Linked DNA regions of Homo sapiens. The protein of the gene in region 1 interacts with the protein of each later gene in a biochemical or structural test. Each region holds a gene or a part of one and is shown on either strand. Other genes may lie near its edges.

What was found.
Region 2: the proteins of PDGFRA (region 1) and PDGFA form a complex in vitro, tested with the Homo sapiens proteins (2 studies listed by BioGRID).
Region 3: the proteins of PDGFRA (region 1) and CAV3 form a complex in vitro, tested with the Homo sapiens proteins (one study listed by BioGRID).

Annotation. Positions count from the first base shown.
Region 1 is NC_000004.12:54,223,350-54,235,584, reverse strand, and holds the start of PDGFRA (platelet-derived growth factor receptor alpha isoform 1 precursor), read right to left. Parts: upstream 6,293-12,235; 5' UTR 6,170-6,292; intron 5,719-6,169; exon of another isoform or gene 4,979-5,718; intron 3,617-4,978; exon of another isoform or gene 3,414-3,616; intron 2,486-3,413; exon of another isoform or gene 2,142-2,485; intron 1,626-2,141; exon of another isoform or gene 1,114-1,625; coding exon of another isoform or gene 1,087-1,113; intron 1-1,086. UniProt on the Homo sapiens protein: Tyrosine-protein kinase that acts as a cell-surface receptor for PDGFA, PDGFB and PDGFC and plays an essential role in the regulation of embryonic development, cell proliferation, survival and chemotaxis.
Region 2 is NC_000007.14:493,603-504,642, reverse strand, and holds the end of PDGFA (platelet-derived growth factor subunit A isoform 2 preproprotein), read left to right. Parts: intron 1-3,400; coding exon 3,401-3,527; intron 3,528-4,143; coding exon of another isoform or gene 4,144-4,199; exon of another isoform or gene 4,200-4,212; intron 4,213-6,068; coding exon 6,069-6,079; 3' UTR 6,080-7,385; downstream 7,386-11,040.
Region 3 is NC_000003.12:8,743,802-8,751,792, forward strand, and holds the end of CAV3 (caveolin-3), read left to right. Parts: intron 1-1,724; coding exon 1,725-2,066; 3' UTR 2,067-2,957; downstream 2,958-7,991. UniProt on the Homo sapiens protein: May act as a scaffolding protein within caveolar membranes. Interacts directly with G-protein alpha subunits and can functionally regulate their activity. May also regulate voltage-gated potassium channels.

The DNA.
Region 1 (12,235 bases):
CATTCAAAGATGAGCCAATATATACAGTCACAGAAACAGAGAAACAAATGACTTTGCAGCTACTATCCTTTCTCTTTAACAGGGTGCCATCTCCTGCCCTGCAAACAGAAGTAAAGAGCCATTGGACATGACTCTATAACCAAAGGCAATGTGCAAAGGTAGTGTAAACAGACAGTAGGCAATGCAAGGCTCTATTTCCAGAAGGACTAACAGCAAGACATTCTTCTCCTAAAGCCAGAGAGTTGGCTTCTCAATCACCAATTGCACAGTGCATCCCATTGCAGAACCACTGAATATTGAATTTCACCCCACCCTCACATGATTAAAGACCACAGGAGACTCTCTCACAGCCCCAAAAGCCACTGGTGACTTCAAGATTCAGATTTCCGAGGCTCAGTTAATTTCAGCTCTCCTAAGTTAATTCTAACTGTGAAAATTACACATTTTCCTTTTTCTACGCAGTCTCCTAACTTCAGCCCAGGCAAACCAAGTGCAGGTCTACACTGGTGGAAACTTCTCCCTGTTTTCCAGCAGAGGGTGTGTTTACCAGGACCTCTGCACCCTACCAGAGCCTGTTTTGTTGTTTTGATCTCCCGGAGCTCCATCAGACATTCCAGTAATGGGAGGGGGCTGGAGTGTTTTTAAACAGGAGCCTTTTATGGGACAATCTGGGCTCATAAACATGCCTGCTCTCCTCTCACCATATATTTAACCACGGGAGAATAAAATGACATATCCTTTTGAATATCACCAAACGGGTGTGACTCCTAATGGCACAACCTTAGGAGTAGCAGTAGCAGTTTGAGCATTCGGCTTGAGGTCACCAAGGCCCCGACATAGGTCTCCTCACTCAGAAACGGGAACATCAATGCCCCCCCACTACCCTCCTCACAGGCCAGCTCTGATAATAAGATGTTCACTATGTAAATGCAAAGCATTAACAACCAAGGAGAAACACAACACAAATTTCCACGAAATAAAAATGTTGTCTTCCAGCAATTCTTGTAGCCTCACAGCAAAAGAAAATCAGTCACCTATTACGGTCCTACTGAGCAAAAAATAAATAAAAAATAAAAAATAAAGCACCTTCCTAATGGTCTCCGCGAAGCCCATTCTCACAGCGGGTCGCAGTAGTTCTTACGAGTGGCCAGCAGATGGCAGTGTTGGTCCAAGGACGTGCGTCCACGGGTTGCGACACAGACGCCGCTGCGAGGAATTCTGAGCTCCACTACCCCAAATGTTAATTTCCAGTCTCTTCCTTCCTTAGGTTGTACTTTTAGCTTTCGTGGTGACCTCAGTTGAAAGCCCGCGGGGTTTAAGCAGAAATAGGAAAACTGCTGTTGAAAATGGCTAAATCTCCTCGGGACCCCAGGAGAATTCGGGGACATCTCCCCATCATCCCCATCATCATCCCCATCACCGGGAGCTGGTGCGCCGGGGCAGCGGGGCTTCGGGAAGACGTCTTCGGAGCCGGGAAGACGACGCTGCTGGGCTAGGCCGCAGAGGCTCAGCCGGACTCGCTACTAGGGTTCTGTGCAACCCACGCTCTCGCCACCTCAGCATTTCCGCCCCCTCGGGGCAGGGGGACCGCCTGGACCTCGACGCCGTTCCCGGGCCGCGCTGTCCTATCTGTCCGCGCGCCACCGCCGCCCCCATAAACCAGCCTGGCGAGGGCCGCGACGGCCGCGCAGCTGATTGGAAACGACTGTTACCGTTGCACAATAACGCAGGGTCGTAAAACAAACAAACAGCAACAGGCCGCCCGCGGGGCAAGGGAGCTGGCGAGGGGCTGGAACGCAGAAGACGGCGCCTGCCCCCCAAGAACGCACGGGACCCGTCCTCCTCCACACTCCCCTGCTTCTCCCACATTGAATTACAAGGACGTCCCATTCTCAATCCAAACCCAGAGACCTCGGCCCCCTCTCGTCCACCCGGCGCCTCCCGGGCCCACACAGAGCCTGCGAGGAGTCCACTGGCTGCCCGGAGGAGGGGAAAGGTGACCCAGATTAGCCTCCGCTCCGGGCCCCCGGGGTTCCAGCGCTGCGCTCCACTGAGATAGCGGCGCCGACCGCCCGGGGCTGGGGAAAGCGGGATGCGTCCCCGGAGCCCACTAGAGGGCGCGACAGCCCCGCGAATCTTACCCGGCTCGCCAGCTAGCTCGCCCGCAGCCCAGGCTCCTGGTCCCCGACAGCGCAGCCGGGAGTGCTGCGCGCAGACTTCGCCCGGGAGGCTCTGCGCTCGGACTGTCCAGCCCCCGCCACTGTCCGGCTTCTGACCCCGGGACCCAGAGGAACACTGCGCGGTCCGCTCTCCCTCCCACCTCCACCAAGTCCTCGGCGGCTTGGTTGTCCCGGGGTTGGCGGCGATGCCCAGCCGCTCCGGGGACCTGCGCCCCTGCGCCCCTGCGCGCCGCGCTCTGAACCTCAGAGCTGCAGAGGCCGCTGCGCCCCAGGCACGACGCTCTGCGTTTGCATTGTTTTCAACTGAGACCCGAGAGGGGGCCGGGCGGGTGTGGAGAGAGGGGGGAGAGCGGGAAGAGAATCCGGGCGGGTGGGGGGAAAGGGGCCGAGGGGTTTAGGGTTACAGGAGCTCGCCAGCGCCTCCTATGGGCACGAGAGCCGCACGGCCGTGGGTAGCGGCTCACCGGGAATGCTGAGGAGAGCTAGCATGCGCCCTCTCGGCATTTAAGAACCGTTCCTGGCCGGGCGCGGTGGCTTACGCCTGTAAATCCCAGCACTTTGGGAGGCCGAGGTGGGCGGATCACCTGAGGTCAGGAGTTCGAGACCAGCATGGCCAATATGGTGAAACCCCGTCTCTACTAAAAATACAAAAATTAGCCTGGCGTGGTGGCGGGCACCTGTAATCCCAGTTACTCGGGAGGCTGAGGCAGGAGAATCGCTTGAACCTGGGAGGCAGAGGTTGCAGTGAGCCGAGATCGCACCACTGCACTTCAGCCTGGGCGACAGAGCGAGACTCTTGTCACACACACACACAAAAGTGCCTTCTGGTGCCACCTTGCCCGACACGCGCCATAGCCGCCTCTGCCCCCTCAAGAGTCCGCGCCCACCCGCGCTTGTCGCTCCCCTTTCGCGGGGGCCGAGAAACTGCAGTAGGAGGCAGGGAAGGAGGCGCCCCAAGTCGGGTTTCCCATTATTCCCTCCTACAATCTACTTTTTCAGCCCATCCCAGGTTCGCTCATTGATCAGTTTAAAACAAAAGGAAATGCCGCCGAGCCACTTCAGCAAACGACAACCATCTGGCAGAACCCGAATTAGGGGGAAGTTGGGAGAAGCCATTTGCCCCCGATCCTGCATCTTGCGCCCCAGGCGAGACCGAAAGATTATCTGCCGCCCCAAGGCTGATGCTGCGGTTGGACCCGGCGAGTTAGACCCGGGGAACCCTGAGACCCACACCTTTCGGTCACCGATCCGGCTTTTAGCTCTTTTCCTAGAATTGTCACTTTTCCACCAGCAACGTATAACCTGGTCGCAGCTCCCCGGAGGTCAAAGGGAGTACTTCCCTGTGGGGTCTGCAGGAAGGCGCTGGCCACCACGTCCCCAAAACGCGTCCCGCCGCTGCGCGCCGCCCACGGTCCGTCCCCAGGAGGCACAAAATGGGCCCGCCTCGGCGCCAGACGTGTTTGCAGCTGGAAAGCCCGGCCCAATGCCCCTCCCCCTGCATCCCTCCTCAGTCCGCGTCCCGAGAGGAAACTGGCCCAGGGGCGCAGAGCTGGGAGCCTGGGATCTCCTTCAAGTCCTTCTCGATCTAAGGATTTAAACAAGAGCCAGGGCACCGGGGGCTAACGACGGGTTCATTCTTGGCTTCCCCTCACTCTTGTGAACGAGGTCCAGCTGCACTTGGGTCAACCCAAAACTGCAAGCTCCGAAGCAGGGCCTGACCAGGGCGTCAAAGCGAGCCTGGTCGGCCTTGCGCCTGTCGGGGAGTCGAGGCAGGGCCTCCTCATCTTGAGGGTTGTGGAAAGGAGGAGGCCGAGGAGAAAGGGAGAAGAGGGGATGCAATTCAGCAGTGCCGGGGTCCAGGTTGACCAGATTAGGGGTCGGGGATGGGACAGCGCGGCGGCTGGGGAGGTGCGCACGCCCGGAGAGCCCCTTCCTCCCCTCCTGTGGCTCCGGGGATGTTTGTCCGGTGAGATGCACTGCGGAGGACTGTCGTGCGTTTGCCCTGGATGCTCCCTGCTCCAAAAATCTGTCTAGTTCTTGTCAGGAGCGACCGCGGCGAGGCGAGTCGGTCCAAAACATTGAGCAATTTGGCCTCGGAGCCAAAAAGCCATTTCCCACACCGCCCAGCCCGCGGCTTTTCGGACGCGGGGCGGTAGGGACCTGATATGGGCCCCATCCATGCTTGCCTCCCACCCAGGAAGATGGAGTGAGTGGCAAGTTCTTCCAGGCACTCCTTGCGCACATCCTGAGGTCTTAGCACAATTCGGGGAGCGAAGTGCGGGACCGGCGCTCTGGCTGCGGGAGGGATGCACAACGCACAGCCTGCCAGGCCAGCAAGTCCTTCCCGACCAAGACGCGAGGCCAGGCCATCGGCAGCTCTCGCACACCTGGCCCGGCCCAGGCTCCTGGCTCCCTCTGGCAACGTACTCGGGTTGGGCCACACTCGTCGCTCCGACCTGGCCGACACCCTCCCGGAATAGAACAGCTGATCCCACATATTCAATGCCAAATGGACGCCGCCCGCTCCCTGGGCGCAGCCGGGCGGAGTTAATTTCGTGTGTAAATCTGGTTTCCATGGGGGTAGACAGCAGAGGAAGGAGAAGTACGCACAGACGGCTCTGAAGCCGGCAGGGAGAGGAATGGAAAAAAGGCCAACTAGAGAGGACCGAGCAGCGCTGGGCGAGCTCAGACGGCAAGTGCCACGCACCCCCGCGCGGAGAAGGGTGCCGGGTAGGGGGTGTCCAGGGCTCGGGTGCCCGGAGGGAGAATATGGTTTACCTCCCACCTTTCTGTCTTACCTGCAAACAAGTTTCCCCAGTTCCAAGTCGTCCCTAACTTCCTCACAAGAAGTTCGGCACCTTCCTGGAGACCTTTCCTCTCTTCCTGCCTGCGGCCAGAACTGAGCGAAAGCAGAGCCCCCGGGCAATGCAGAAATGATTCCACCGAGGAGGGGGCGCGGGAAGACAGGCGGGGGCGGGGGCCACGGAGCACAATGAGGGCCCCTTGGTGTGCGGTTCGAAATTCCTCAAATCCCAGTTGCTGGAATGCGAGGCGACGACGACTTCTTCACTCAGGGCCAAATGTGTTTGTCATTATTCCAGACCGCCCGCCCGCGCCGCCGCTGTCGCCCCCGCGCTAGGGCGTGCAACCCGAGCACACTGCCCGGCAGGCACCCGCTCTCCCTGGCACCTCACTGACCCAACAAACCGCTCCAGAGCGCCCCAAACCCTTGCCCACGCCCGCGCGCCTCTGCTTGTCCCGCAGCCGCCTCACCGCCGCGCCAAATCTGGCCCCGACTCTCTCCCAGAGCAGCGCCGTCCAGTAATCACGCGCATTCGGCCGGCTCCCTGTGCTGTAGGCCAACACCGAGGTCCGGTCTCCAGCCGAGCCCAGCCCGCCTCCTGCGCCCCGCAACCCCTTCGCGCGCCCCCCTCCACGCTCCCCTCCACGCTCCCCTCTCCCCACCTCCCCCTGGTCCCCCAGCCGCGCTCCACACCATGGGCTGCAGCGCTGTCCCGCCAAACCGCAGGCGAGGAATGAAAACACTCATTTAAAACCTGTCGCCTTCCAGGACCCACTGCCAAGAAGAGGGCAAACACCTCTGCCTCCACCCCCAGTTCCTTGGTGTTCGGCCCAGTATTCACGAACACCACCCCCACTCCCAAAAGAAACCTCAAAAATGTAAGCCTAAACAATTTCTTTGGGAGGCCATAGGGTTGTTAGAAAAACATTGTTTTTAAAAATAGGTCTGGAAAATGTGTGTTTAAAAAAAATACCTAGACTTTCTAACTCTATGGTTATCTCCCACCCGTCCCCAAGTGAAGTTTATTCCGAAAAAAAAAAATTACTCTCTGGACACACAACTGGAATCCAGCTCCTTTTTTTTTTTCTTGTCGCCCAAAGTTTGAAGTTACTTCGCTTTCTCCAGTCCCAGAGTCTGATCAGGGACTTCCCTTATAAACAAAAAATCATTTTTTCTTTTCCCTTACCTTCTCCTCCGATGTTATTCCGCAATGAATGTCCCACACATGGAGTAAAGAGCGTGCCCACGGCCTCCAATGATCTCTTGCAGTCTCCTCCTCTGTTTCTCTCCCTGTAGCTCCAACAGTAATGGGCTCAAAAACCGCGTTTTGTAATTGATTCAATGTTATAGTCCATCCTTCTAAAACTAATCATTTGCTCTAAGTAAATAGCTGTCAGGAAATAAGCCCCCCCTCAACCTTGGTCTCTTCAAAATAAAAGTTTCTCTCAAACTCCCTGCGCTCCGAATCTCCCAGTGTCCAGATTGCGCCTTCGCTTTTTGCTCTTACGCAATCAGGGGGTCCAGTCCCAACCCCCAGACTTCGACAACAACTGGGGGGCGGGGAGAAGCAGACCAGATGGGATGGGGGGTGGTGGAAGGGGGAGGTGTTGGTGCTCTGCCGGGAAAGAGGTTTTGTGAAACTACAAACAGCCCATCATTTCCAGAATGAGTTTGCCTCCCCATTTTGGGGTTATTTTCTTAGACTGCTATAGTTTTGTATTCTCTTTGAAAAGAAGAAAAGGAACATACAAAATTGCATTTAATACCCAGAGAGAATATAAATCTAGAATCAAGAAATGTCCCTTCTACAAACTCGGCCCAACGAGAAATAGGGCCCTCGGGAGAAATCTCCAAGCGGTTGCGCCGTTTTGAACTAGGGGTCTTTTAGGGGAAGGGCTATATAGTTGCTAGTTATTTAATAGGATTGGGCAAACTGTTGAGTCCAATATGACAATGATGGGTTTTTGTTTTGTGTGGTGTGTGTGTGTGTACAAGACTGGGTGGTCTGAAATACGGTACAAAGAAAAGAGGGTCTGTGTAGGTTTGGAACGTTCTCCGATAGAACGACCTTTACTCCCTTGAAGTCACTTATCTGGTCGTGCCTTTGTTTTCGGGGTTATCTGGGCGAGGTTGCCCTGGCTTCTATCTCGCATACAAAAAAAGCTCAAGCTTGGGCGTTTGAGGAATCGTACCACCGCCTCCGCGTCGTGGGGGAGGATGCCTTTTGATTCTCCCTCCGTTCCCTCCCGCCGCGTGGGTCGAACCCTACGAATTCCTTGGAATTGACAGCTGAGCCCCAAACCCTGCGCCCAAGGCGAGAGGCCAGTGTCGGGAGGAAACGATCCTGCCGGCGAGGGAAAGGGGGCGCTGATGCTCCAGGAACCAGACCTGGGCAGAGTGGGGCTTCCCAGCGACAGCGGGGGAGGGGAGCGCGTTCACCTTCATCGCTCTCTGATTTTTGAATTCTCCTGTTGGGGTTGGGGGTCATCCTTCATCCTTCTCCCTCAACCCCACCCCAACACACGCACTCTGAAAATGGCCAAAGTGGCCAGGTTGGGACTGGCATGTCCAACAGCCGTCTCCTCCTTCACCAGGAGGGTGGACACAGTGCAGTGGACAGGGGAGAGTCACAGAGAAGTACTCCAACGGGCGCGGTGCTGTGCCTAACCAGGACAGGATCTTGGGATGTCAGCCTCGAAAACAGGGCGCCTGGGGCTGCGCTGGGGGTCCCATTGCCGCAGTTCTTCTACGCGACCCGCTCTCGTGCATCTTCAGCTTGGGTGACTGCACCGCTCGCTATTACTTCCACATGTCCCTTCAGGAAATCATTGAAGGCAAATATATGAACAGCCCCTTGTTCGGAATGCTAACAGGATACCGTAATGTTTGTAGAAAATGAGCGGGAACAAACGATCCCCCCAAAAATCAGAGTGCGGAATAAAAGGCAAAAGCGGGTGCTGGGCCACATGCTGTTAAGTTGAGAACCGGGTTTTTAGGCTAGTTGCCCCAGAGGGTAGGAGGCGAGACAGACAGCCTACCCAGAGGGGCTGCTTTGCTTCGGCGACACTGTTAGTCCGGTCAAGCCAGGGTCTTCCGTCCGCAGGGCCCCAGCGCTCTCCGCCCACAAATGGTAACTTCACAGTTCATTTCAGAGCCGTTTAATGGGGCCCGAGAAGCAGTCCGGGCGGGAGTGTCTCCAGGCAGCGACTCCTCGGGAGTTTAAAGCAGAAAGCAATGGATGAGCAAGCGAGCACCCAGTTGTCCTTCTGGTAGTAATTACCTGCCTAATTTGAATGATGCCTTTGTTATGATCATTAACAAACATTTGCTAAAGGTTTCCATGTGTGACATTCTGGAAGGTTTAAAGGCCTGAGGAGCTGACTCCAGGGATAGTGCCCCGGTGGGGGGTGGCGCAAGAAAGCAAATGGTTGGGGGAAAATTTTGCGGAGAGACTGTGCAAAGAAGAGAGGTCAACATCTGCCTCCTCTGCAAAAGCAAAATAAACCCAGTGGTCAGGAGCAACCTCCGGACAGGAGGCCCTCGAACCGAGGCGGTTGGTTCCTTAAACCGAGTCCTGCCCCCACAGCCCCCGCCCCTACCACTGCTCATAGGCGGGTTTGAATCCTGTTTTCCGCCTTCTAAGGCTGGTCCGAGGCTGGTTCGGGAGAAGTCGGGTCTGCGCCCGGCAGTCAGTCCGGGGCGTCGGGGGAAGGTGGGGCTAGTTCTTGCCGCGCTCTCCCAGTGTCGTTCTAAGATCCTTCGAGATCGGTCCCACGACGCCCCGGGTCCTGGGTGGTCCCGGAGCCGCAGGGGGCTAGAAACCTTGCCCTCCTGAGGCGGGCTGCGGGTCTTTTCTCCCCTTCTTGTGCTTCTCACTGGGCACCGTGTGGGGGGTGGGGGGAGGGGACCAGGCCACCATATGTACCCGGAGGAGAGGAGCGACATGCACTGGCCTGGGCAGCTCTGCGCAGATCTCAACCCGCGCCCGGATTCTAATTTTCAACCTCTTGGGGTTTTTTGTTTTGTTTTTTCCTTGAGGGATTATCAAGGGGTTAAGAATGTGGGTTTTCTCCCCAAAGTGGGAGTCGGGGAGGCTGCGAGCCGAGAGGAAGGAGGCCCAACTCCCGAATTGAGCCGGGCCGAGAAGTTGGGAGAAAAGGGTAGGGACTGTGACAGTTCTGTCCTCCGCCTTGCGCGTCTAGGCCAGCAGGCGACATGAAATTGAGGGCAAGGGTATAAAAAGGTGCAGTCGATTAGCTGACTTTCAAAAAGAAGGCCTCGTAAACTTTTTACAACCAGATCAAAATGGTCACTAAAAACAAAAGCAAAATCTCGCCGTGCCCTGCCCTGCCTCCAGGGCCCGTTCTCCTGGCCCCGACTCCCGGGCGAGGGCGGCCACAGCTCCGAGCGCCACACCTTTGGCTTTGAGGGCGCTTCCCACTGAGTTGGCTTTTTGTGTCTTCTCCTCCTCTGCCCCCCAGCTCCACCGCCAATTCTACTTTCCTTGAAGAATTCAGGTCCGTTTGCCCTAGAAGCCGTACGAATTTAACAGTTATCAAAGCCGTTAGTTGTGAAAATCACGTTTAAACTTGTGAATTCTTTTTTTCAAATGGTGATGGGCGGGGCAAGGGAACGGGGGATGTTTCTGGCTTCACAATTTGAAAATGAAGGGCCCGTTTGGTGGTTTGCAAAAGAAAACGGTGCTAACTGCTCCTTCTCCCACCCCCTTTAACCCTTGGCTGCATCTGGAATAGCCGCCTCCCTGGGTCCAGCGAGGAAGGGTCCTTTGCCCGGAGGTGGTGGAGGTGACGCACAGATGTGGGGGGTCCCCGCAGACAGAGAGACGCCCTGGCCTCTGGTCTGCCCCAGCTGAGGCTCGGAAGCTAGCTCTAAGGAGTCTCTTTGCACGCTCAGAATTCAGAACGGCACTAGTCCTGGAAAAGGAGGAATTCTCTAAAAAGATCGAGATGGGTCTGTGCAGCTTGAGGTGAAAGTTCCCTCCCCAGGACTCCGCACCCACCTTGCTGGCTGGATCTCAAGGTGCAGCCTCTCTTCTGGGTTTGGGGGGCTTGCTCTTCAGGAAGTAGAAGCAGAGGGTTCCTAACAACGCAGCCTGTTTACAGACCTGAGGACAAGAGCTTGTTTCCTGGTCCAGCCCAGCCCGGTGGGCCATACACTCCTTAGAGCCTGGGACAGACTGGTAGGACTGGAACCCTCTGGATCTGGCTTTTGGATACCCCCTCCCTCGCTAGAGAGCCCCCTTCCTCAGTTTAGGGATGTTGTTGTGCCTCTGCCCTCTCCTGCTCCTTAGGTCTTTGGTTTTAGTTGCTTTTAATTTGAAAAACCATATGAGGGGAGGGGGAAGGAACGAGGAGATTGGGAGGTCTGCTCTTTATTAGGGGCCCAGGCCTCTAGCTTTCCAACACACAGCTGTGGCTGGGAGGGGAAGGAGGGCTGGCTCTGTGTAGGTCAGCCTCACTGAAGAGAGGGACTTGTCCTCTGGAAGTCCCAGGAGTCCAGCACAGCCCTGTGATTTTTTTTTTTTTAATCCTTCAGCAGAGACACTGCAGTGGAAAACCAGTGGAACCTCGACTCTTTGCTCATCCATTAAAAGGGGCATAATCGACTAGGCATGGTGGCTGATGCCTGTAATCCTAACACTTTAGGAGGCCAAGGTGGGAGGAACACCTGAGCCCAGGAGTTTAAGACCAGCCTGGGCAACATAGTGAGCCCCCATCTCTATTTAAAATAACAGTAATGACCATTGGAATAATCATGCACAACGTATAGGGTTGTCTTGGGGATTAAGTAAGATAATATCCCAGGTAAATAAAGCGGTTCATATGCAAACTTAAGATGTACAAGGCCATGTGTCAAGGGCTAAGGATACAGCCCTTTCCTCCTAGATTTTATGGACTAGTGGAGCAATCAATTAGACATAAAGTTGCAACTTAGCGTTCTAAGCAATGTTGGAGAGAGACAATGAAGTCAGCACACAGGAGGAGCCTAACCCAATCTGGGAGATGGGAGACGGCTTCTTTCAGGGAAGGCTTCTCTGAGAATCTAAGAGGAATAAGAATCTAGTTGGGGAGGAACCTCATTGCATGGGCGGGGAGGTGAGAGAGAACATGAGATAATCAGAAGTGAAAGGAGTTTGGAATGGCCACAACTTGTAAAGGTCCGGAGCGGAAGGAGCAAAAAAGAGGTGAGATGGAGCTCATGGAGGCCTTCTAGACCATGTTAAATGTCTAGGCTTGCAGAGATGGGAGGATCGATGGAAGGTTCCAGGCCAGAAGTTCAAAACCAGAATGGACAACATAGTGAGACTCCATCTCTACAAAAAATTTAAAAATTGACCAGATGTGGTGGTGCACACCTGTATTCCCAGCTACTCAGGAGGCTGAAGCAGGAGGAATGCATGAGCCCAAGAGTTCGAGGCTGAGGTAAGCTATGATCGCACCACTGCGCTCCAGCCTGGGAGACACAGCAAGACACCATCTCTAAAAAATAATAAGGCTGGGTGCAGTGGCTCACACCTGTAATCCCAGCACTTTGGGAGGCTGAGGTGGGGAGATCACGAGGTCAGGAGTTCAAGACCAGCCTGGCCAACACTGAAACCCCGTCTTTACTAAAAATACAAAAATTAGCCAGGCATGGTGGTGTGTGCCCATGGTCCCAGCTACTCAGGAGGCTGAGGCAGGAGAATCACTTGAACCCAGGAGGCAGAGGTTGTGGATAGCCGAGATCACGCCATTGCACTCCAGCCTGCGCAACAGAGCAAGATTCAATCTCAAAAAAAAAATTAATTAATTAATAAAAAGGAAAACAATTGACAAAAGAACCTGGGCTTAATTCTATGGAAGTATATGGTTTAAAGAGGGGCAAGACAGGAACAGAGTTGAACATTTAGCAAGATCAGCCTGGATGATCTCAGGAGATAGGGAGGCTCCTGCTATAATCTAGCAAGAGAGGATGCTTCCCTGTTCCTGGGGGATAGCAGGAGTTTGGAGAAAATGAAGAGTGAATTAGAGAGAAGGAAGTAGAAAGCCTAGCACTCACTGAAAATGTGAACTGTGAGGGAGAGTGGGGTGCCTGGCTGAGGCCATGGCTGGTGCTGTCTACTCAGCAGGGGGACAACCAGGAACTGGGTTAGAAAGGAAAGGATGGGCCGGGCATGGTGGCTCATGCCTGTAATCCCAGCGCTTTGGGAGGCTGAGGCAGGCGGATCACTTGAGGTCAGGAGTTGGAGACC
Region 2 (11,040 bases), on another chromosome or scaffold:
TGCCTCACTTGGCCACCCCTGCAGAGGCTGGGGGTGGGTGGGAGCAGCAGAGTATGGGTGCTTCGAGCCTGGGAGATGGCAGGGTGTGAGGCTGGTGCTGTTCCTCCTGCTGGGACCTGTGTCCAGGGCCTCCAGGGGAGGGGAGGAAGGAACTCGGTCCCTGCTGAGGCAGGAGGGGGCTGGGCCTGGTTTTGCGCACTGGGATCCCTAGTTACTTACTACCTGGGCAGTTCTTGACTCAGGGAGGGCTGAGGACATGCTTGCAGGGCTGGGGGTGGCTGAGGTCCCAGGTGGCCCTGCTGCTCCTCTTGGGGCTTTGCTGCAGTTCATCCTCGGGCCGGGCCTCTCCGACCCCAGGCCCTCAACAGGAGGGTGGCTCTAGACCCACTCTCTGCCTGTGGTGGGTGGGTGGTGGTACTGTGCTGAGCTTGGGGACCAGGGGGTGGGTTGGTTTTGGGGCTCTGGATTAGAATCCACGCCAGTGGCAGCCCACTCTTGAAGGCTGGCTTTGTCCTCGTTTCTGGGGCCTTCTGCATGTGCAGCCTCATTTATTCCTCAACTCCTGGGTGGGTGTGATTGGTCTCCGTTTTACAGATGGGAGGTGGAAGTGTGTGCACGGCCTGCGGAGGCCTCTCTCTGGAGGATTCTGTCCTGGGGAAAGGGGCAGATTGCCGCGGGAGTGTGGAGGCTGATCTGAGGCCTCCCGAGTGGAACGGAGCCCCATGTAGGAAGCGGCAGTGTCCTGGCCGCTTTCTCTCACGCTTTGTGACGTAGCGAAACCTCCCAGGCCAGGTCCTGTTTCTGAGCTGGCTCCTGACCCCAGGCGCCCCACGCCCTGCAACTGTTGAGCTCATACTTGGCTGTCTGCTCACGCCCCAGGCAGCCCAGACCACTTCACACGCCTGCAGGCACCCTTTGCACTGTGGGTTAACCATTAACTCAGCCTCGGACAAGCCTGGTCCCCAGCGCCTTAGGGACCGGCTTACCTTCGGAGCCTGCCTGGTCCCAGGGTGCAGAGCTGACCTTCTCCCTGGGGGCCCTGCTGATGCCCAGTCTCCAGAGTCTGGAGTCCCCCCTTCCCCCCAAGAAGGTTGGGAAACATTCCCCTCCTCCCTCCTTCACCCTCCTGACTGCCTGGGAGGCAGGGCCACTGGGCTGGGGGCATCTGGCCTTGGGCTGAGGTCTCCTCATTCACCCAGCAGCGTGCATTCCCCCACGCCCCTGTGCTCAGGGGGTGACCCGGCCTCCGTTTCCTTTCTAGCCTCAGTTTCCCCATGAACCGTGAGGGGTGAAGTGGGTGATCCATAGTGGCTGTTCTTGCATTTAGACCCTGCATGCGGCAGGGCTGGTTCCGTGGGCACAGATGGAGCGCCTGCTGGGTGCTCAGCTCCCCAGGGCCTGGGAGGGCAGGAAGGTGGTGGCTATTCCCTGGTGTGTGCTCCAGGGGGCAGGTGGGACAGCCTAGCAATTAGGGACAGGCTTAGTTAGAGCTTGCCTGCGCCTCAGTTTGTTCTGTAAATGGAGGTGCCAGTCTTGCCTCCTTGTAGCATGGTTGGGAGGATGAAATGAGTGCTGGGGTTTGGGCTGGGAGAGCCAATACTCTACTCATGCAGTCCCTGGCTGTGTATTAGGGGTCTGTTGATGCCAGGCGTGTGCGTGCTTGCACTCTGTGTGTGTAGTAAGATTCCCACGATGGGGCCCCTGTGTACATTACACATGCATGACTGGTGGGGGGTGGAGTTGCCTCCCCATGACAGGGTATGTGTGTGCATTATACAGGTGTGTGTGTGGGGTGGAGTTGTGTTCCCGTGACAGGGCCTATATGTGCATTATGTGTGTGTGTGTGTGTGTGTGTGTGTGTGTGTGTGTGTGTGATTTCTTGCCTCTCTTGTTGAATGCCTGAAGCTCCCCTCTCTGGCCTGGACTGGGCCATTGTCTGCCTGCAGCTCCCCGGGGAAGGGGCTGTGGAGGCAGGACCCCCATGTTGTGGTTTTGTGCCTGGAGAATTGAGGGCAGGCGTGGCTCGCAGACAGGCAAAGTCCAGTCCGAAGAGGGGAACCCAGCTGAGGTCTGGTTCGCTTTTGAGCTGCCTGTGCCTGATAGCCACGGCCTGCTGGCCTGTGCTCCTCCTGGATCATCTTGTGTAGCCTCGGTGATGGCCCAGGATCCCTGGCCCTGGTTTCCGAGGTCAGGCCTCTCCGAGCCCAAGGAGAGCCTCGGACCTGGGGGAGCCATGAGGGGACCCTGGGTATGGGTCTGCTGGCCCTGCTGCCTGGGGCCGGCGGGGAGGTGGGGCCCTCATCAGGCCAGCAGCTGGGATTATCATCTGGACGCTCAAGTCCACAGCAACCTTGGGCTAGGATACAGCCACGAACCCCCCATTCCTAGGCCATGGCTTTAAATTTTTTTTTAATATTAATAGAGACAGGGTCTTGGTGTATTGCCCAGGCTGGAGTGCAGTGGTGTGATACCAGCTCACTGCAGCCTCAAACTCCTGGGCTCAAGCGATCCTCCTACCTCAGCCTCCCAAGTAGGCTGGGACTACAGGTGCCACCATGGCTTGCTAATTTTTAAATTGTTTTTAGAGGCAGGGTCTTACTATGTTGCCCAGGCTGGTCTTGAACCCCTGGAGTTAAGTGATCCTCCCGCCTTGGCCTTCCAAAGTGCTGGGATTACAGGCGTGAGCCACCATGCTCAGCCTGGCTTTTAAAATGTATTTAAAAACAACGTGATCATTTGAAAACATTTCCCAGCTGCACATCCACACACAAGCAAACACTTTCCCTGGCCACCTGCACCCCAGAACTCCCAAACTTCCACACCTTAGCAGTGTGCATCCTTCAGCCCCCCCAGGCACACGTGAACCTTTGGGTTTATTTTAAACAAAAATAGGATGAGTCTGCTAAATACCATGCTCCAACACCAGGCGCGGCGGCTCTCACTTGAAGTTCCAGCACTTTGGGAGGCTGAGGCAGGAGGATCACTTGAGTCCAGGAGTTCAACATCAACCTCGGCAACATAGCGAGATCTCATCTCTTCCACACAAAAAAAATATTTAAAATTAGCTGGGCATGGTGGCCTGTGCTTACAGGTGGGAGGCTGAGGTGGAAGGATCACTTGAGCCCAAGAGCTTGAGGCTGCAGAGGCTATGATTGGCCTAGGTGACAGGGTGAGACCCTACTCAGAAAAAACTAAAACACACACACACAAAACTGCACTGCAGCTTGTAGGTTTTTCACCTGGTACTGCTACACTCCCCACCACAAGGTAGTGTTTCTGGGAGGAGGTCAGGGGTCAGGCTGCTCTCTCCTCCCTCTCAGCCTGTCCCCGGCTCCCAGCACGTCGTGATGTCCGAAGCTCCATGCAGGCATTCATGGCCGGGCTCTGTTCTCTCTGGCAGGTGGCCAAGGTGGAATACGTCAGGAAGAAGCCAAAATTAAAAGAAGTCCAGGTGAGGTTAGAGGAGCATTTGGAGTGCGCCTGCGCGACCACAAGCCTGAATCCGGATTATCGGGAAGAGGACACGGGTGAGTGGCTGCCTTCGTCGGCATCGGTGTTGGAGAACAGGTCTTCAGAGCCTTGCTTTTGGGGTGTTAGGTGGCCCCCTTGAGCGCAACGCTTACTGCTGTGAGCATCTGGGCTGCTGTTGAAGGATTCGTTGCCCTGCTCCCGGGCCAGATGCCTGCGGGGGAGACGGATCCCACACCTGCAGGTGTCCGGTGGGGAGGGTGGCCCAAGCTGCGGCACTGGCAGGAGAGGAGATTCAGGTCTCACTGAGAGGGGCTGGGAGTGCATAAGACACCCAATTCATTAGTGGGCTGCGGGGCTGAGCTGAGAAGAATCTGCAGAAGGGCCTCCTGCCAGGGTGGGCGGGAGGAGCAGGTTCGAGGACTGCAGTTGCCCTGGCTGGCTGGGGTCTCTCCTTCACCCCGCCACGCGGACTCCACCCAGGAGCAGAATGGCTTCTGTGCCCTGCTATGGCTGGGCCCTGGGAGCATGAGGGGACTCAGAAGTTTCTCGGTGCCAGGGTGCTGGCCTTCTCTTCTGGAAAGATAAACAAATGCCGTAGGTATTTGTTGCTTCAGTTCTTCACCCCGACGGCCGTCCCTCGGCCCACTCACCGCCCTGCCCTTTTGTTAACAGGAAGGCCTAGGGAGTCAGGTAAAAAACGGAAAAGAAAAAGGTTAAAACCCACCTAAAGCAGCCAACCAGGTAGGACTGTCTGCCGGACACACTGAGTCCTGCAGGGCGGGGAGGTGCAACTGACTGATCACACCAGCAAATCACGCTTCCTGTCTCGCCGGGTGCGGCGGGGATGTGGCCCTGATTGGCCTTGATGGTGTCTGCTGGGCTTGGGTCTCCTTGCTCCCCGTCCGCTCCTGCCTCGCAGAACGCCCTGGCCCGTGGCTCACTCCCGCTTGGGAGCCTGCCTCCAGCTTTGTCCTTCTCTTTGTCGTTGATTGGGGATGCAGGAGCATTGCACATGAATGGAACAGGTTGGGCGACCTGAGCAGCGGTGGGGCAGCTCTGAGCGCCTGGCCACTCTGGGATCACCCACCCCATTTGACAGATGAAAAAACTGAGGCTTAACTGAGATTACAGATAAGGACTGTTGGAGGCTGAATATATCTGGAAATCCTTTATAAACGTGCAGGGCTGTTGGCTACTGTGTTGGAAATTGCATTTGGCTGCTAGTAACACCAGACAGCACAGGGATTGAGATAAGATCGAGCTTCATGACTTTCATCTAAGGGTGGGATTGCAGAGCAGGGAGGGTAGTCTTGAGGTATCATCAGTGTCCGCCTTCTGTCTGGCTAGTGGCATCCATCTGCAGTTGCCTCATGGCCCAAGGTGGCTGCTAAAGCTCCAGAAACCACATCTGTGCTCCAGGCTGGAAGAAGGAGTGAGCGGGGGGGGGGGGGAAGGGCAAAATAACACCCTTAGAGAGCTATCCTGGAAATCCCACCCAGTGACTTTTGTGTTTTTCTCAGCTGCCATCCCTCCACTGCAAGGGAGCTTGGGAAATGTCTCCTAGCAAGACATGTCGCTTCCCAGATGGAGGTGGGACCTGGGCAGCCGCCATCATCACGGAGGAGGCAGTTTCAAGCCTTCCTGGTCCTTGGCATTGGCCCGTCTGGCTTGGGAAAGTTGGAGCCCTGTCTGGCCTGGTTCCCCCTCCTGGCACGTGGGACTCCATGGTGGCCAAAACAAATAGTTTCTTTAGAAGAGAGGAGGATCTCAGAGATAGGGTGTCTGAGAACCCTGGCTCCTGTTTGCAATGTGGGACTTGGGCCTGCGGGTGAGGTCCATTCATGAGGAGCCTCTTGGGAGGAAATTGTCCACTTGGGCGGGTCTTTGAAGCAGTCCAGGACTGTTGGTCAGCCTTGGCTTTGTTTGCTGAAAGTGTGGCCTGGTGGGTGGTTTTGTGCCTGCCTGTGGGTCCCATTTCTACAGAGCGTTAGGCTCTGGCCTCCATGGGCCTGCTGGTGACAGACCCCATGGTGAGAGGCTGGCACTCCTGTTGTCCCATGCCTGGCTGGTACTCATGTTCAGCCTATAGGCAGCCCACGTGTTGGAGTGTGCGATGGAGAGGCCACATGGGATGTGGAAGAATTGTTCTTAAACGATCAGCATAGGTCTGCCTGGGTGCAGACTCTTCTGTCTGGCTGGTGGCCTCCATCCTCAGGGTTGTCTCATGGCCCAAGGTGGCTGCCAGAGCTCCAGAAATCACATCTAAGCCCTAGGCTGGAAGAAAGGAAGGCAGAGAGAAGGGCAAATGAGCCATTCTTGGCCTCAGTTTCCCCCATCTGTACAATGGGAGAATGGGGCTTGGTCTCTAGACATGTTCTGTGAGATGCTGTGAGCCTAATCCCAATTCCTGTCAGGGTACTGCAACATGGCCAATGTGGCAAATGTGATTCTGGAAATTTCTTGAAAACTTGAAATCCCTGTGTGCCCCTGATTGGGTTAAATGTTTTCACCCTGTTTTCCTCCTATGCAGCCATGTGTGTGCTGGGTGGTTCACTTGGTCGGTGGTCTCAGTGTCTGTCTTTCCCTTCTCCCTGCAGATGTGAGGTGAGGATGAGCCGCAGCCCTTTCCTGGGACATGGATGTACATGGCGTGTTACATTCCTGAACCTACTATGTACGGTGCTTTATTGCCAGTGTGCGGTCTTTGTTCTCCTCCGTGAAAAACTGTGTCCGAGAACACTCGGGAGAACAAAGAGACAGTGCACATTTGTTTAATGTGACATCAAAGCAAGTATTGTAGCACTCGGTGAAGCAGTAAGAAGCTTCCTTGTCAAAAAGAGAGAGAGAGAAAGAGAGAGAGAAAACAAAACCACAAATGACAAAAACAAAACGGACTCACAAAAATATCTAAACTCGATGAGATGGAGGGTCGCCCCGTGGGATGGAAGTGCAGAGGTCTCAGCAGACTGGATTTCTGTCCGGGTGGTCACAGGTGCTTTTTTGCCGAGGATGCAGAGCCTGCTTTGGGAACGACTCCAGAGGGGTGCTGGTGGGCTCTGCAGGGGCCCGCAGGAAGCAGGAATGTCTTGGAAACCGCCACGCGAACTTTAGAAACCACACCTCCTCGCTGTAGTATTTAAGCCCATACAGAAACCTTCCTGAGAGCCTTAAGTGGTTTTTTTTTTTGTTTTTGTTTTGTTTTTTTTTTTTTTGTTTTTTTTTTTTTTTTTTTACACCATAAAGTGATTATTAAGCTTTCCTTTTTACTCTTTGGCTAGCTTTTTTTTTTTTTTTTTTTTTTTAATTATCTCTTGGATGACATTTACACCGATAACACACAGGCTGCTGTAACTGTCAGGACAGTGCGACGGTATTTTTCCTAGCAAGATGCAAACTAATGAGATGTATTAAAATAAACATGGTATACCTACCTATGCATCATTTCCTAAATGTTTCTGGCTTTGTGTTTCTCCCTTACCCTGCTTTATTTGTTAATTTAAGCCATTTTGAAAGAACTATGCGTCAACCAATCGTACGCCGTCCCTGCGGCACCTGCCCCAGAGCCCGTTTGTGGCTGAGTGACAACTTGTTCCCCGCAGTGCACACCTAGAATGCTGTGTTCCCACGCGGCACGTGAGATGCATTGCCGCTTCTGTCTGTGTTGTTGGTGTGCCCTGGTGCCGTGGTGGCGGTCACTCCCTCTGCTGCCAGTGTTTGGACAGAACCCAAATTCTTTATTTTTGGTAAGATATTGTGCTTTACCTGTATTAACAGAAATGTGTGTGTGTGGTTTGTTTTTTTGTAAAGGTGAAGTTTGTATGTTTACCTAATATTACCTGTTTTGTATACCTGAGAGCCTGCTATGTTCTTTTTTTGTTGATCCAAAATTAAAAAAAAAAATACCACCAACAAAACCCGTGGACGTGAGAAGCGTTTTGTGGTACGTTTTTCTAGCACTGAGTCTAGACCCTGGTTGCCAGGTCATGCGGTGCTGTGTTGGGTGGAAACGGAGGTCAGAGCTTTCTGGGTGGGGTCCCTGGACCTGCCTCCATGGTGGCACCCGTGGGATGCCTGCCTACCTCGGACTTCAGCACCTATGGGGGTTAGGCCGAGGACATCCTCCTGCAGGCTCCACTCCCTGGAGCGGATGAGGAGTGTCAGAGTAGCCAGAAGACCATGAAGAGTTTCATCCAAGAAGGGAGCCCACCTGTCTTGGTGTGTCCATGTGCAGCACTCACCATACCCTGCCCGGGCTGGCCCCTCCACCACCTCCAGGCCCACGAGACAAACCATCGAGGTTGCTTTCAATCTTGACCCCGCGTTCTTCGAGGACCATCTGTGGACTGGCGGCCGGCTGGCGTCTGTTGTCCATGTGCTGCTGGAAGGTTCTTACGAAGGATTATCTTCAACAGCTCATCTTCATGGTGCTGTTTTCAGCCTCGTCAGGGCAGCCTGGAGGCTGGAGGGGAAGTGCAGGGCCAGGTGGTTGCAAGCTGGTTCCTGTTCCTTGGACACCTGCTGGGGCCCTGCCTGGGCCTGTGGGCTGCTGTCCAGATCTGCACCGGTTACAGCGCCTTGCCCAGGAATGTGCATTGGATGTGACGTGTGGCAATGTAACATGTATTTGTTTCCATGAGATGCTGGCGACAATGCTCCATTTTTCTTTTTTGTATAAAGTCGTCTGGTGTAATACCGTGTCCATTAAAGTGATGGGGCAGAAAAGCCAGGTGGGGAAGAGAGAATTCCATAAGAATTCCATAGGTCTGGAGCCCAGGGGTGGCTGAGGTAGCAGTAGAGGTGGGAACTCAGGCCTGCTTTCTCTCCCTACTTACTCCTTCCCTCCCTCACTCCCTCCTTTTCTCCCTCATTGGTTCATCCATGCAGGCGAGGGCCCTAGTGCCAGCCCCTCCTGTCCCGACATGGGGAGAGCCCTGGGGAGGGGCAGGCAGAGTGGAGGCCACTCCAGCCAGGAAGGGCTGCAGTGTGGCGGGGGCTGTGGTCTGAGGCTGGATCCTTTCCGAGCCTCTCCACCCACGTGGGCCTGCAGCCTTTGTCGCGGCTCTGCCCTGCGTTCCCGGGATTTCTGCTCCTGCCTGGGCCCCCTCCCGGCCCCTAGCCCTGGGCTGCACCTGGATCTGGGCTCAGGAAGGTGACTTTCTGCCCAGGGTCAGCTCTTCATGTCTTGTGAGCCCTGTGACCTTGACCGAGGGGCCTCCATCTGCATGTCGGCGTGCACATCTGTGAAACGGAGCTGCAGCTCAGGCAGGGTAAGGACGCCTCGCCATTGACTCACCTGGTGCAGGTCTTGTCTGCTGCCTCCTCCTGCTGGGACTTCACTCCAGCCTCTAGTGTTTCTAGGCCCCAGCATGGCAGAGGACAGAGCCCTTGGGCTCAGGGATTGCTGAGCGGCGATGGTGCCGCCTGTTAAAACGAGGTTCCTGCACCTGCCTGGACACCTGAATGCACCTGCTCACACCGTGCCCTTGCCAGGGGTCATGAGAGCTGGGGCCCAGCCTTTGCTGGGCTTCTCCTTTAGCTTGGGGGTGTTTCCTTTTCTTCACCCAGGCCTCTGTGTCCTGGCTGTGGAGGGGGTTGGAACTGGCTGGGAGAGTCAGTGACGGCAGGTGGTCTCCAGCCGTGGGTCCCTACAGCTGTCTTGGGATTCCCAGCGGTAGGTGAAGCCGAGGCCTGGGTCTTTGCCTGGGTCCAGTGCGCAGAGCAGTTGCTGGGCTGGGCCAGGCTCGGGGATCCCGTTCTGCAGAGAAGCCCTTCTGGTTTGTGCCCTCTTGTCAAGCACAAGAAGCCACGGCCCTCCTGGGACCTCCTTGGTTTTTTTGGGCTTTTCATACTTAGCCATGGGTTCCTCCAAGAATTCTAGGGGTGGGAACTTGAGGGCTTGGCTCCCATTTTAAAGATGAGTGAGCTGTGCCCCTGGCAGGCCCGGAACGCCTAGGGGGCCCCAAGTAGAAGGGTCGCAGGACACAGAGAGGCAGGACTTGTGCTGTGGCCGGGCATCCAGGGGCCCTTCCATCTCCTGGGCCTTGACTCTGCCCCACCCCAGGGGTGGGCTGGGCCCCAGACTCCGGAGCAGCATTGGGGCGGGAGCTCCCCAAGTGCCTGCAAACAGCAGGGCCAGCCAGGCTCTTCTGGGGTTGTGTCCTGGGCAGGTGCCCAGCCTGGGACTGAAGCTCCTTGCCCTGCACCTATCACCAAAGGGCCAAGATTCACAGAGATTTGCCTCTGCATGCTCCCTGGAAATGGGGTCAGCAAGGACCAAGATACAGACCCCAGGGAAGATGGCGACCTCCAGGTCCAAAAGGAAGAGCAGGTATTTGAACTCAAGTAGCAAAAATCACAGAATTTCCTGCACCCCACAGACCCCCGTTCCCTCACAGAAGCCCCCCATCCTCTCACAGAACCCTGGTCCCCTCGTAGATCCCCTGTCCCCTGACAGATCCCCTGTCCTCTCACAGATTCCCCCGTCCCCTCACAGATCCCCTGTCCTCCTCACAGATCCCCCATCCCCCTCACGGATCCCCCGTCCCCCTCACAGATCCCCCGTCCCCTCACGGATCCCCTCCATCCCCCTCACGGATTCCCCCGTCCCCTCTGTACAGCCGTTTCCAGGAAGTCCTGGTCCTGAGGTCCCCGGGTTTCCGGGATGGGCAGGAGGAGGGGACACAGGCCCAGTCCTGAGAACGGGGACCCCAGGCTCCCGATACGTGGACGCGGCCCGGGGCCAAGGCTGGACCGGAAGTGGCAGGTTCCCGCCGCCTGTGGGTTCCGCCGCTTCCCGGGGCGCCCGGCGAGGGTGACAGACCCCGGGAGCGCTGTGACCGCCACCCGTGCCCAGCGATGAAGCTGAAGGTGGCCTCCTCCGTTTGCAGGGAGAATTTTGGTTCCAGGCTCCGGCGCCCCGGGGGCGGGCGGGCTAGGAGGGTCGGTGCGGGCGAAGGAGGCCTGGCCCTTGCGGCTCCCGTGCCGGGGACCCTGGAGGTGGGCGCGCCTCGGCCCCCAGCCCCAGCGGCCGACGCCGGGCTCCTCCCACGGCCCAGCCAGCGCCTCACAGTCCGGTGGCCCTGCCCCTGCGGCCACGCTGGCCGGCTCCTGACGCCTCAGAGCCTCAGTTTCCCCCCTAGCCGTCGGGAGGCGGGTGCGCCGCAGGATGAACCCGTGAGTGGCGCTGAGCAGGGTGGGCGGCGGCTGTGGCAGCCCGGGAGGACGTGGGTCCCCAGAGCGCCGAGGCGGGAGGAGAGTCCCGAAGAGCATCCGCGAGGGGTCGCCAGCCGGGGAGAGTGGTGGGGCCTCTGAGCCGGGAGGGGGCCGAAGCGTCTCCCACGACCTCGGCGCGGTGCCTGGTCTCCGCGGGGTCCGGCTTCCCGGTGCCCCCTTACCCTGCGCTTCTCCAAGCTGACAGCCCCAGGTGTGGGGCCTGGGGTGGGGCCTGGCATGGCCTCGTGCCTCCTACTCTTAGGTCCAGGGGTGCCATGAACCACCCCCCAGCCCTGCCGCGGGATCGTCCCCCAGTGTCCAGGGGACCCGCCTGCCTCGCCCAGCCTTTCTTTTCTT
Region 3 (7,991 bases), on another chromosome or scaffold:
GAAAATATTGTACTGGAAAGAAATGCACCAAAACAATCATATCTTTAGTAATAGAGAAGTACAAACCCAAGACTCTTTTCTTTTTTCTATTCTGTTAATTCTCTGTGATATGGCCATTTTTTTTATAATGAAAGTAATTTTAATATTGGTGATGCAATAGAGGAGAGGATCCCCTCCCCATAACCAAGGCGGGAAAGGGACTAACTAACCAGGAAGATTGAAGTTGGAGCCTCAGCCCTGCAGGCCACCACACAGGCCCCTCCTGTTGATCTGATTAGTCTGTACCTGCATCCACCCCCTTTTAATTTGAATGGCCCAGGAGCACTGCTAGAAAGAAAACATCTCAGAACAGTTTCAGGCATTAGCAAACAGCTCTGCAACCTCCCACTTGGCGGGCTGTACTGGTAACAACCATGGGGAGACCAGTCATGAAGCAGCTAATTTGGTTCACTGCTGTTTAATTGACCAGTGGAATTTTTTTTTTTTTTTTTTTTTGAGATGGAGTCTCGCTCTGTCACCCAGGCTGGAGTGCAGTGGCACAATCTCGGCTCACTGCAAGCCCCGCCTCCCGGGTTTATGCCGTTCTCCTTCCTCAGCCTCCCAAGTAGCTGGGACTACAGACACCCGCTGCCATACCCGGCTAATTTTTTTTTTTTTTTTTTTTTTTTGTATTTTTAGTAGAGACAGGGTTTCACTGTGGACCAGTGGATTTTACAGCCTCCCATCCTTTCATCCTCATGATACCACTGGAAGACGTTCATTGACTCCATCTTACAGACAAGACAGCTGAGGCTTAGTGATGCTAAGTGACATCACCCATGTGTAGGCAGCTAGGAAGGTGCTTCATGCATAGCAGGGCTCGAGAGAGCTTAGGTAAGCGATGTGAGGAACCTCTGCCTGTTCACCATCCAATCCACAGGTGCTCAGTAAATTGCTGTAGGATGCATACGACCGTCCAACACCCTTCAGATCATAAAACAATAGAATTTGAGAGCTGCGACTATAGCACTGCCACTAAGTCACTGTTGGCTTTAAGCAAGTCGCTCACCTTGAGGGGGTTGAACGAGCGTGTTGTGTTGGTCAGCGGTGCCTAGGAACAGCAGCAGCTTGGGCTCAACAGGGAGCTTGTTAGAAATACAGAGCCTTAGGCCCCACTCCAGACTTGGGGAGTCGGAATCCCTGGGGCGATGATATGGTCTGGATCTGTGTCCCCTCTAAACCTCATGGTGAAACATAATCTCCAATATTGGAGGTGGGGCCGGGTGGGAGGTGATCGGATCACAGAGGCAGATCCCTCGTGGCTTAGTGCTGTCCTCACAATAGTGGGAGAGTTCTCATAAGATCTGGTTGTTGTAAAGTGTGGCACTCCACCCCCTGCCCAGCTCTCTCTCTTGCTCCCACTCTCACCAGGGGAGACGCCTGCTCTCCCTTCTCTAGCCATGGTTGAAAGCTCCCTGCGGCCTCACCTGAAGCCAAGCAGATGCCAGCACCATGATTCCTGCACAGATCACAGACCCATGGGCCAATTAAACCTCCTTTCTTTATCAATTACCCAGCCTCAGGTATGTCTTTAAAGCAATGCAAGAATAGCCTAATACAGGTAGGGTCCAGCCACCAAGGTTAACCTGACCTCTAGGGGATTCTGACACATGCACGCACACACCCAAAAGCTTGAGAAGCGGGTGGCTTCTGTGAGTTGAGGCTTCCCCTTGCCACCCCTGCAGGTGGATTTTGAAGACGTGATCGCAGAGCCTGTGGGCACCTACAGCTTTGACGGCGTGTGGAAGGTGAGCTACACCACCTTCACTGTCTCCAAGTACTGGTGCTACCGTCTGTTGTCCACGCTGCTGGGCGTCCCACTGGCCCTGCTCTGGGGCTTCCTGTTCGCCTGCATCTCCTTCTGCCACATCTGGGCGGTGGTGCCATGCATTAAGAGCTACCTGATCGAGATCCAGTGCATCAGCCACATCTACTCACTCTGCATCCGCACCTTCTGCAACCCACTCTTCGCGGCCCTGGGCCAGGTCTGCAGCAGCATCAAGGTGGTGCTGCGGAAGGAGGTCTAAAGCCAGGTGGGGCAACAGCGGTGGCAGGGCAGGGGGTGGTGGGCCAGACTGGTCCCCGGGGGACTTCTTCACAGGGGCTGCTGGCGAGCTCTTTCTCTTTAGGGACTGCTCCATACCCCATGATGGAGCACACGGTGTAGGGAAGCCAGAAAGAAAAGACGGCCCAGCCACAGAAGCACAATGGCCCTTCGCTCTCCCCCAGCCCCACCATGATGCCCCCATGCCTGGGCGTGGGGGAAGATCATTTGCCAAGAGGCAGCTACTGCAAGTCTTTGCGTTCACTTGTACTGTAACAACATAAACCAGCACGCGGTTCCCACCCGGGGCCAACCTCTCCACGCGCACTCAGGAAAGTGACCAGTGACCACTGGCGTTAGGAAGGTGGCTCCAGTAAAGGGTTTTGGCTGCATTTGGGGAATGCTGCATTTTGTTCGTGCCTGTAAGATTGGTTTGTGTCCTGACCAGCTCCAAAAATATACTTCACTGCCCTGAAAAACAGACACAGGGAGAGTTGGTTGTCTCTTCACTTGGCCAAATGTAAGTGAAGAACAGAGTCTTTTTCTTCTTCGGATTCTATTGTTTGCTGGAACCGTACACGTTCCTTGGAAGATCATGTTTAAGTGACTCCTGTTGCCTGAGCACAAAAATGGGCACCAATGGAGGAAAATGACCCTTGGGCTGGCAGGGGCAGTGACCCTTCCAGGGTACCACTGAGGGAAGGGCCTGGGTTCAAGCCTCCCGGAACCTCCCCTTTGGCTAACCGAGCCCCTGAAATGCCCAGTACTGCCATTTGACATGAGGGTACCTTCGCCCTCAGGAGATGTGACGAAGGAACAAGGTCTAATTTGTGCGTGTGTGGACTCACTATGGAAATAAAATGCAGTAGAAAGAGCATGTATCACTTCCTCCCTCCTCACACTCTCTCTCTCTCTCACACACACACACACACACAGTGCCCTTATCTTCTTTAGGGCTGTCTTTTCCGAGTGTGCTATCCAGAACTTAGCCATTAAAAAAGAAAGGATGGGGATGGGTGTTAGCATCTGTGGTCCGGTTCTTTCAGAAATGCTGTATATTTCTCTCAGAGATTTTCAATAGACTTTGGCACATTAAAGGCTCTGACATGTCCTGCAGTAGATAAACCTGTTTAAACCAGTATCCCCCCAATCCTATCTGACCTTTTTTTTTTCTTTTTTTCTTTTCATGCAACGCCCATTTAAGTCTCATATAATTAAAGTTCCACAGCACTTGTCAGGTTTTCGGAGACATTATTCATGCCTGGCCACGAGCCCAGTGGTCTTGGGAGGCAGTGTGGTGAAGTGGACCACACACAGCTTGGGAACTAGGACGCAGGCAGCCTTGGTTCTAGTCCTGCTTCCGCTCCTAGTTGCCTTTTCTGCCTCAATTTTATCACCCACAAATTGATCTCTAATGTGCATTTTGGCTCCAAAATTTTACCCAATTTTGGTTTTCTCCTAACATTGTATGTAAATTTCAAACACAGAAAAGTTGAACAGCTACATACCCATCTTGGCTCTATCATTAACGTTTTTCTACCCCAGCTTTCTTACATCCCTATTCATCTATCCACCCCTCTATCCATCCCACCAATCTCATCTTTACGCATGTTTAAATACGTTGTAGAGATCAGCACATTTTACCCCTAAACACTTCATCATTTAGCCCTTGTTTCTGCAGATGAGAAAGTTACAGTCCAGAGAAGTCAGGAACCTTGCCAAAAGGCACCCACCTAGCCAGCACTATCACTGTGGCTCCAGCCTGCTGCCTGTGCTCTCCCTTGGGGCTCTTCCACATTGTCGGGGGGCTCAGCAGGCCCAGGCTCCTCCCTGCTGAAAAGGACTAAGGCTGATGTTACTTATGTCCTCCTCAAAGGGCCTGCCCTTTCAAACGTCTCTTGAAATCACGAGGCCATCCATTTCAGACTTGGAATCTTGGGTTATGTAGAGAATTTGCCATCTTGGTATTTGCTATAACTGGATTTGACAATGACTCCAATTTTTCAAGCTCACTGTCTTTCTCTAAGGGCAGACTATGGTCGGTGCTTAATTAGCCACAAAGTTCACAGAACTAGAGACAGGACACACATCTGAGATGCATGGGTGTCCAAGGAGTTCTCCCTCCAGGAATCTCCTTGAGAAGTAGCAGGCAGAAAATCACATTGGGGTTATGATGAGAATGGGCCTGAGGCAGGAGGATGGAGTTCCATTCCCTCTCATAAGATACATAGGGGACCACCAGGGACTCCTGTTTGAAATGCAGGTTCCAAGGCTCTAGCTACAGTGTTTGATTCAGTAGTGGGGCCCAGGAATCAGCATGTTAACACAAACTCATTTGTGATGCTACAGATGGCTCCCAAATCCACTTTTAAGAAATATTTGTTAGGGTTCCTTCAAGGTAACAGTCTAGAATCCTATCATCCCCAGAGTTCCACTGTGGTTCAGAGCAGATTCAGGGACATCATACATGATGTTTGTTCCTGAATCTTAGAGCATCTTCCCACAGAACTCTGATAACTGAGTGCACCTGTGATTCCAGAGAATGGGACCAGGGCCCCCTTCCACACCCTGTCACAGCCCATGCATCTGTGCCGTAATCAGGCCAATAACTCTGAAGCCCTGCAGGGATCTGGGGTCTACAAGCCACCAGTTCCAGTCACCGTTCTTGGGAGGAAGAACGGGGGCAAAGCAATGTATGGAAACAAATGTTTATCTAGTGCACTCTCTATCAAGCAGCTAATGAAGCAGACAACTTATGATCAGCCATGTCATTCACCAACTGGCACAGTTACAGAGGGGTGCCAGAGCAGGTCACCACAGTAGAACAAAATCAAGGTGTTCACATTTTGCCTTAAGTGGCGTTTCATTGCTATTGAATACAAAAAGTGTTAAACACTTTGAAACCAGGATTTTCTTAAAAGACAGCCTGCATTGTCCCCTTACATTTCCTGAAGTGGCAACACATAGACTCAAGCCAAAAGAAGACCAAAGTATGTGTCAGATTTTTTTTTCCAGCGCTTAAAGAAATAAGCCTCAGAGTTTCCACGTTCACTTTTGATGATCAGAGCCATGATACATTGCAGAAGACAATCTGCAGCTCCCACTTCCTGGCAACCCCGGCCATGCATATGGTTGTAAACAAGTCTGAAACTGTAGGGAAAGGTGGTTGGCAGACCTCAGGCATGGGGTCTGGGGAGGAGGCCAGAAACAACTGAACCCAAGGTAGCGTTCTGAACCCCTGCGCTCATTCTTCTAGGCTTTAGTTGGGGAAAGACTAAGAAATGGTGAAAATGCTCTCAAGGAGATGGGTGGGGGTCGGGGTGTATATCCAGTGGGGCTATTGAAATTGAATGTCACTTATTTGCCATAAAACAGACTCCTGCGCCATAATAAGACCCAATGTACCCGCCAGAGCTTTCACACGAAGAGAGTGACAAAGCATCCCACTTGGTTCTGATGCCCAAGAGTCTTATAACTCCAGGGTTCCCAGGAAGGCTGTGCTCCTGGTCAGAAAATCTACTGTGAGTTGCTGTCCCTTTGATCCCCAGTGGCCTCTGTTGGCTCCTAGGATGGCAACTTCCCTGGGAACAGCAGAGTCCTGGGGCATCTCTGGCTGGTGGGCAGCGAGGCATGAATGCTAACAGACCCCACTGCTGCTGCATTTGCACCCAGAGCTCACCAGTGCTCCAGTACATGTGCACAGAGGCCCCAGAACTGCATCCTGTTAGCTTCCCAAAGAGCAAGGACTGGCTGGTGTTGACCCTCTTCGTGCATGTCCCAGCAACACTGAGCAATGCTTTGCAGTCCAAAGACGATACTATCTTCAGTCTCCGGGTAGTACTGAAGACCTTGTGCTAAATCCTTAGACTTTGAACGTGGACATTTCAGTGCAAGCCTCTCTTCTCCCAGAACCTCTAGACAATGCTAGCTCATTCTATTGTGTGTGTATGCGCGTGTGTGTGGCTATGTGGCTACTGCAGCATGGAGGAAGAATAAAGTGTGTTATAAAGAGACAGAGTGGATCTGTGGCCTTTGAGAGTGCTCCTGCTGTATCTCAGTAAGTACAAAAATGTGCCTGGAAACTTAAAAGGTGCCCCACCATGCACTCAGCTGGCCAGTCCCTGACAGTAAACCTCTGATCAGTAGTGTCCTGTATTTAGTGACTAAAGGTATTTCTTAGACGTGGTCATGTCCTAACCTCAAGGCTGAGAGGACATTTGAGAACATGTTCACTAGGTAAGAAAAACCTCTGACACCTCTAGTGAATTTCTATTTTAAATAAAACATAACAACCTGCAGCTACAAGGCATCACTTGTGCCTTTACAAAGTAGGGATATATTTTCACTGCTGTTACTTTTTGCCAAATAGAGACATCATCTCTTGCAGTAAAACTGAGTAAGAAAATGATGAGATCCCTCTCAAGCAGTGAGCCACATAGAGAAACAAAAGTGCTGAGAGGCAAGAGATTCCAAGGAATTCATCCATCAAGCTGGCCTTCTCTGAATTCATCTGTTGAATTTTTTTTGTTTATTTTTATTTTTTAAAGTTCATTGGTTTTTAGTACATTCTCAAAATCGTGCACAATCACCACTAATTTCAGAACATTTTCATCACCCGAAAAAGAAACCCCAAACCCTTAGTAGTCATGCCTCATCTCTCACAGCCTCCAGGCCCTGGCAAACGCTAATCTATATTCACTCTATATAGATTCGTCCATTTTAGACATTGCATTTCAATGCAGTCAGACAATATGTGGGCTTTTGCACCTGGCTTCTTTCACTTAGCAAGTTTTCAAGGCTCATCCATGTTGTGGCATGTGTGAGTACTTCATTTCTTTTTAGAGTCTAATAATGTTCCATTGCGTGGACAGACCACATTTTATTTCCCATTCATCAGTTGGTAGACATTTGGGTTGTTTCCACTTTTTGGCTATTACAAATAATGTTGCTATGAACATTGGTGTACAAGTTTTTGTGTGTATGTACGTTTTCATTTCTCTTGGGTAAATACCTAGGAGTGGCATTCCTGGGTCATATGGTCACTCTACGTTTAACTTTTTGAGGTACTGCCAAACTGTTTTTCAAAGCAGGTGCACCATTTACATTCCCACCAACAATTTAAATTTCTACCAGTTTCTCTACATCCTCACCGACACTCGTTCTTGTCCATCTTTTTATTGTAGCCATCCTAGTGATTGTAAACTGGAATCTCATTGTGATTTTGACTTGCATTTCCCTAATGAATAATAATGTTGAGTATTTTTTCATGTGCTTAGTAGCCATTTGCATATCTTCTTTGGAGAAATGTCTATTCAAACCGTTAGCCCATTTTTTAAATTGATTTATTTTTCTCCTTATTGTTGTGTTATAAGAGTTATTTATATATTCCAGATACAAGCCCCTTATCATATATATGACTCGCAAATATTTTCTCCCATTCTGCAGGTTATCTTTTCACCTTCTTGATAGGGTCTTTTCAATCACAAAAGCTTCAAATCTTGATTAAGTCCAATTTACCTATTTTTCCATTGGTTGCTTGTGTCTTTGGTATCATATCTAAGAAACCACTGCCTAATTCAAGGTTACAAAGATCTATGCCTATGTTTCTTTCTAAGATTTTATAGTTTCAGCTCTTATATTTAGATCTTGGATGCGTTTTGAGTTGATTTTTGCACATAGTGTGAGTAAAGGTCCAACCTCATTCTTTTGCACTTGCATATCATTGTCTCGGTGCCATTTGTTGAAAAGACTCTCCTTTCTCTATTGAATTGTCTTGGGAACCTTGTCAAAAATCAATTGACCGTAAGTATAAGTGTTCATATCTGTACTCTTTATTCTGCTCCGTATGTCTATCCTTAAACCAGTAACACACTGAGCTGATTACCTTTATCGTAAATTATGAAATCAG